Homo sapiens: one gene and its partner. The protein of the gene in region 2 interacts with the protein of the main gene of each other region in a pairwise test. Each region holds a gene or a part of one and is shown on either strand. Other genes may lie near its edges.

What was found. Proteins that work in one complex are often made in the same cells at the same time.
Region 1: the proteins of CCDC90B (region 2) and SDHAF2 interact in a two-hybrid assay, tested with the Homo sapiens proteins (one large-scale study listed by BioGRID and IntAct).

The regions. Positions count from the first base shown.
Region 1 is NC_000011.10:61,436,624-61,440,123, reverse strand, and holds part of SDHAF2 (succinate dehydrogenase assembly factor 2, mitochondrial), read right to left. Parts: intron 2,500-3,500; coding exon 2,276-2,499; intron 2,121-2,275; coding exon 2,011-2,120; intron 1-2,010.
Region 2 is NC_000011.10:83,258,581-83,262,367, forward strand, and holds the end of CCDC90B (coiled-coil domain-containing protein 90B, mitochondrial isoform 1 precursor), read right to left. Parts: exon of another isoform or gene 3,387-3,787; coding exon 3,331-3,386; 3' UTR 1,529-3,330; coding exon of another isoform or gene 1,477-1,528; 3' UTR 501-1,476; downstream 1-500. Other genes in the region: ANKRD42 (ankyrin repeat domain-containing protein 42), read left to right, coding at 1,477-1,528.

The DNA.
Region 1 (3,500 bases), about 22 Mb from region 2:
AGGCTGGTCTCGAACTCCTGGCCTCAAGTGATCCACCTGCCTCGGCTTCCCAGAGGAGGAGCATGTGATCTCATGCTGAAATTACAGGCATGAGCTACCACACCTGGCCCTATTATAAAGTTAAACATATACACTTACCACATGACCCAGCAAATCCTTCTCCTGAGTATTCACTCAAGAAAAACTAAAACCTATGTTCACAAAATCTGTATGCAAATGTTTACAGTGGCTTCATTTATAATCACCTAAAGCTGGAAATAATCCTAATGTCCCTCAGCTGGTCAAAAGATGAACAGACCATGGTACATCCACACAATGGAATATTACTCAACACAAAAGAATGAACTATTGATACAAGTAACAACAAGGATACGCATCTCAAATGCATTATGCTAAGTCAGGGCAAACTTGTTCTGTAAAGGGTTGGAGAGTAAATATTTGGACTTTGTTGGCTTTCCAGTGATTGTATAAGGCTCCAGACTCTGTCTTATCACTCTTCATACCTGGAACCCATAGACAATGGCTGCTACTTTCTGATACAAATATTGAGTGGAGACACAAAAACAGCAGTCCCGGAGTGTGGCAGAATGAATGACACGTCCCCTAATATCCAGTTTTCATCGATAACAGAATCTCCAACACAGCTGGGCAGATGGAATAGACTATATTATTTTTCCTTATGGTTAGACGTAGCCAAGTAACTAAGCTGTGGCCAATGGCAAATAAGTGGAAGTATGCTGGATAATTTCCTGAGCGGGATCTACAAAGGAGGGGTATGCACTTCCACACACTTTTTCCGGGCTGAAATATGGCTGTCCTGGATCAAGAAGTAGAAAACACATGCTAGGATGAAAGAGCAGCAAGTAGGGGGGACCTGGACCCATGACTTTTTGAAGCCCCTCTATGAGCTCTGGAGTGTGCCTTCCTCTGGACTTCTGTCATGAGAAAGACAGTTCTACCTTGTTTAAGCCATTACTGTTTTGGATGTTTTTTTACTCATAGCCAAAGTTAATCCTAACTATACACAGTTAGAATTCATTCCTCATAAAGGTAGTGCCTGAATGAAACTTTTTTTTTTTTGAGACATAGTCTCACTCTTTTGCCCAGGATGGAGTGCAGTGGTGCAATCTCAGCTCACTGCAATCTCTGTCTCCCAGGCTCAAGCGATTCTCTTGCCTCAGCCTCCCAAGTAGCTGAGACTGCAGTTGTCCGCCACCATGTTCGGCTAATTTTTGAATTTTTGGAGAGATGAGGTTTCGCTGTGTTGGCCAGGCTGCTCTCAAGCTCCTAACCTCAAGCGATCCATCCGCCTCAGCCTCCCAAAGTGCTCAGATTAGAGGCATGAGCCACTGCGGCCGGCCAGAATGAAACTATTGAGGAGCTTTGGCTATGCAGACTTAGTTGTCTGATTCCACTCCATTCCCAGAGTGGTTCTTCTTCAACCTTTGATACTGTGAGCTTCATATACCCTTCCACTAAATTCCTTTTTGCTTAAGTGAGACAAACAAGTTTCCACTCTGTCTCGCAAATAAAGAACTTTAACTGATAAATTTTGTACACTTAACAAAAATTTGAACAGTGTTTGGGTTGAGTGTCTACTTCATGAATAAAAGAAAAAAATTATAAGCCAGGCACAGTGGCTCATGCCTGTAATCCCAGGATTTTGGGAGGCCGAGGCGGGCGGATCACCTGAGGTCAGGAGTTCGAGACTAGCCTGACCAACACAGAGAAACCCTGTCTCTATTAAAAATATAAAATTACCCGGGTGTGGTGACACATGCCTGTAATCCCAGGTACTCAGGAGGCTGAGGCTGGAGAATCGCTTGAACCTGGAAGGTAGAGGTTGCAGTGAGCCGAGATCATGCCATTGCACTCCAGCCTGGGCAACGAGAGTGAAACTCAGTCTCAAAAAAAAAAAAGAAAGAAAAAAATTATCTAGGATACAATTCTAGACTCAAATCAGCCTAAACTGTCCTATTTTCACATTATGCTGCTTATCATACCCAGTACCTGTGGCCCAGTAGTAAATATCCCAGTCATTACTAGGCTCGTTAATCAGGCGGTCATAGAGGTTCAGCTGCTTTTCTGTCATGTGCTGCAGATGTTCTTTAGCAAAAAGACTAAAAACAAGAAAGAAAAAAAGAAAAAGAGGTTGAGAAGGCTGTGTCTAATAAAAGAGAAGTGACACCAAGACTCCTACTCCTGGGAGTCTCTCTGAACCTACTCTGGCTCAGGAAGCTGCCCGATTTAAAAAAAAAGACTCCTAGTCCCATACCTAAGAAGAATGCAGTTTTCCAACATTCCCCTCTTTCTGCTCTCATAGAGCAGGCGGGCTCTTTTGGTTTCTATGGATTCATCAGTTCTCTCCTGCCATGGAGGCAAAGGGATTTCAATCATGTCCTTTTGGGAATCTGTTGGGCTGTCACCTCTGTAGAAGCGTCTGAATGATGTCACACTGAGCAAAGGAGACAATAGGCTGTGCCTTGACAGAGCAAGCATCTGAAATGAACAAACCACAAACATCTTTACAATAATGACGACTATCATCGCTATCATTTACTCAATGCTTACTAGGTGCTGAATGCATTCAATCACATTTAGTCATGAGGAAATTACACTGCTGGCCAGGCGTGGTGGCGCACACCTGTAATCCCAGCACTTTGGGAGGTCAACGCGAGCATGATTACTTGAGTTCAGGAGTTCGAGACCAGCCTGAGCAACATAGCGAGACCCTGTCTCTACCAAAAATACAAAAATTAGCCAGGCATAGTGGGGTAGTCCCACCATGGTGCCTGTGGTCCCAGCTACTCAGGAGGCTGAAGTGGGAAGATCATCTGAGCCTGGGAAGGTCAACGCTGCAGTGAGCTGTGATCGTACCACTGCATTCCAGCCTGGGCAACGGACCCTATCCCCCTGAAAAAAGAAAAGAAATTATGCTGATATTGTCCCCACTTTATAGCCAAGGAAACAGAGGCTCAGGAAGGTTCAATAACTCACCCAAAATCATCCAAATAGTAACTGCAATTAGAATTAAAACACAGTCCTAACTGCAAATGTGTCCCTAACCAGTGCCTTTCCAGAAACTATCCCAGCAGAAATAATTTTTCCTTCCTTTGCACTCCCTTAAAATTCTTACAGTGTGGTTTATACTCTACTCACTCACCTGTGTCAAATCCTGAGCACACAGAGACAGCATGATCCCTAATCCCCCAAAGGCTCCCAATCCAGAGAAGTTGACAACTTATCAAGATATGATGTCAAGGTGGTGACCTCAGCAAGAGGTGAAGATGGTGGAGTAGGAAACCCCAGATCCTCCTTCCCCGATGGAGACACTGAGCCAACAGCAACAAACAAACCAATTCCCTGTGAGAAATCCAGAAACCAGTAAGAGGCTCCTGCTCCCCAGGTGAGCACAAAACCAGCTGCATCGAATCCAGCAGAAAAATTTGTAGCACTCATTTGCCATAGTCTCTTCCCTCCCTGCTCAAGCATGATCATGA
Region 2 (3,787 bases):
CATCTACCTAAGAGGAGAGCTGTGAAAATAGGTGAGCACATATATGTTATTTAGCATATTTGCCCTCATATAGTCAATGATAGCTATTTTTTTTCAAAATAGCAATCAGTAGTTTCAGTGATAATGACTACAGCCTTTCCCACTGCCCTTTTTTTAAATATTAAAAAATACTTAAAAAATAAACAAGTGTTACATATCCAAATTCTTCAAGTTTGACAACATTATAAGCTTTTAATTGTTTTTCCAATAGGTGAGGGTTTTTCCTGACTCTTGCCAAGTCCTTACATACTCTTGCCTGGCCTATTTTGTCACCAAAGCAGTATGGATAGGCAGGTTAGGATCTACACTGTGGCTATAAACATGGTGAAAGTAGCTAATCCTTGTGGAGGCTTCTTACCACTCATAGAAAATGCCTAAAAGGTGTATTACGCTCACTCAGTATGAATGCAGTATTTTCAGCATACCCATAATTAAATATTTAAAATATTAAAAAGTTTGGATTAAGGTCAACTGAGATTTATGAGTATCATTTATTCCACAGGCGTTTAACAAGTACCTCACATGTGTCTAGAGGCCTTCTGAGAACTTGTAGTTTAGTGTAGGAAAAAGATACGTATAATTGCTGTTTCATAGTGAAGTGCAAGTGCTGGAATAGAGGTATAGTTTTAAGGCATATAGAAACACAATCCTCTCATCCTTATTTCATATATTTCCATCACTGAAACAAAAATTTACCTGAACCCCAGAACCACCATCAAAATGAAGTTTCATGGAAAGGATATAGGATCTAAAAGTAATGGGGACAGGGTATGGTATGCATATTTCTATTCTTCTGTTATTGGATACAAAGCACTTTGTTTGCTAAACCCCTACAATGAGAAAGAACGCAGATCTATTTAATATTTAGTGGCTGTATAACCTGGGAATAAGTATATTTATTTGTTGGGGCTTGAGAAGGTCCAATAAATGGCATACCTCCTTTCCATTCTGGGTTGTGAATATAACTAAGATGAAGAATGAATAAACTAATATAGAGGCCTAAAAAACACCTTTATTTGCTGATAAAACTATTGGAGAAGTTTTTTTTTAGGAGACAGGGTCTCATGTGTTGCCAGGCTGGAGTGCAGTGACTATTTATAGGTATGATCATGGTACACTTTAGCCTTGATGAACTCCTTGGCTCAAGCAATCCTGCTGCCGCAGCCTCCCAAGCAGCTAGGACTATAGATGTGTGCCACTGTGCTCAGCAAGAGAATATGGGTTTCATCTTAAGGCCAGTAAGCTTCTTATCACTGAACTCTAGAACTGGACAGATTTACCCTGTCTCAAGCATTGCTCTACTGGGCCAGGCCTCATCCTGCAGAGGCAGAGCCTGATCCCATAGAAGCAGAACAGAATGAATGTCTCTTCAGATGGGCTGGTCCCAAACAGGAGTGGGGAGGAAGTGGGCTAATTGCACCTTGTTTCTCCTTCCAGATTTACAATTGGGCAAGTCACTTTACCTAGGGCAGAGTGGATAAGGGGATGAAGAGTGACGACAGTGTTATGCTACTGGAGCTTCCTTCACATGGAGGAAAGACGCATTCCCTCTTAATATTTTAGAATATTTTAAATCTTAACAAACCAATAATTTACTTGTTTATGTCTCTCTCCTTAAGATTGTCAATTCAATGAGAATGAAACCATGTTCATCTCTGTGCACACAGGGACTAGCATGCTGTTTGGCATATAGCAGGCAGTCATATTGGTTAACTGAACAAATGCAGTATACTTTGTTACAGTGGACTTTAATATATATGGTAACTTATTAATTGACTCAGTGAAAATTAATCTATAATATACTAAGAACTCTCTTAGGCAATAGAGATAAAAATGAATCAGAATGTAACAGGATAATGTCAAGGTTTTTCTTTTGAAAACAAACCAGCAGTTAGATTTTTGAGGAAAATATAGTTGGAAAGCCTGACTCTCACTCACTGGACCATATGGACCAATCTCTTGACTGCTCTATACTGCAGATTCCCTGTTTATAGCTAAACAAATGACAAGGCTATTTTGAATAATGATTGTCAAACTTTTATAGCTATTACCAAGGCATTATGAACTCAAAATGTTTACTTTCTGGTCTTGTCTTCTTGATCTGGGTAAGACTGAAGAACTAAGATGAAAAGGATATTTTAAAATTTCTTTGAAATTACATATGATTTACTAATAGATATTACTTTGTAAGAAAAAATATATCTAATAACAAAACAAAATACGAATTTAAATTTTCCTATGAGTTTCTTGAGAGTAGGTACTAGATATCAATGTTTGCTGAATTGAAGTCATTAAGAAAAGCTTTGTTTTATGTAATAAATTTAAGATGGGTTAACTTAAACTACATTAAGAAGCAGGGATAAACTGGTTTTTGAGTATCAAATATTTAAAAAATACATGTAATAATCAGAGCTCAATATTTAGCAACTCTACAGATTTCATATTAAGTGTTGTAATTTGCACTAAAGCACACATTTATTTATTTAGGTAATGGAGTCTTGCTCTGTCACCCAGGCTGGAGTGCAGTGGTGCTATCTCGGCTCACTGCAAGATTCTCCTGCCTCAGCCTCCCGAGTAGCTGGAATTACAGGCATGTGCCACCATGCCTGGCTAATTTTTGTATTTTTAGCAGAGACGGGGTTTCACCATGTTGGCCAGGCTGGTCTAGAACTCCTGACCTCAAGTGATCCACCCGCCTCAGCCTCCCAAAGTGCTGAGATTACAGGTGTGAGCCACCGCGCCTGGCCTATCATTTTAAAATTTATTGTTTTAGTTCATTACCAAAAAGAAATCAATCTCCAACTATATGGTAAGTCACTTTGAAAACCCACACAACTTTGTTGTAATAATCTTTCATTTTATAGAAAAATGTAATTATGCAATGGTTATCAGGAAAGTTAATTCAGTAATAAATATGTAGGCTAGGGAATGGTTTACAAATATTCAACCAATACCCACAAAATCCTGTATGATTTACACAACTGTTCAAGCAAACATAAGAAAACTCTGGTTCAATTTCTATTAACTATCAAAAGGACAAAATGCTCTTCTATCTCAAACCAGGTCTGAGTGACAGCTTTTCAATATAATAAAGACACACACCTGCACTCACACACACACAATAAAGACACAGTATCTCTTCTCATTCTAAAACACTTCCTCTTTTAGTCCGTATACACTTCGAATAATCTTGTGTAGTAAATTTTTGCTGCAACTGACAATGTTCAAAGTAAATCTCTCCCGGTTTGGTGTTCTAAGAAGCCAACAGCCACAGCAGGATGAGCATTAATACTACTTCCAGAATCTATAAAATCCCAATGCTATTGCCAGGCAAGTAAACACCGAAGCTGTGAAAAGAAGAAACTGTGTTATAGGTCTTGTATCTGTAATTATTTTGCAGAGATAAAGAGAATAATGTTATCTTTAAGTGAAGAGCAAAAAACAGGAAATCCAACCAATTTTCTATCCTATGTTTTTTATTCCCTAGACAATTAAGTATGAAAGACATTCTTAAGGGCAGCCTTAATGCCTAATTCTTCTTAAAAGCACCTGTATATTAAAATGTAAATTATGTCATTTAGAAACCTATAACCTGTATTTAAAATCATTAACGCTAGCATTATTGACTACTTTAAATAATTATAAGCTCTAATTTCAGATCTCATGATAAATGAAATCTTTCTTATATTAAAAAATTACGTAGTTAGGCTAGTAAAATATACATATATCTGTGAGAAGAGAATTTTAA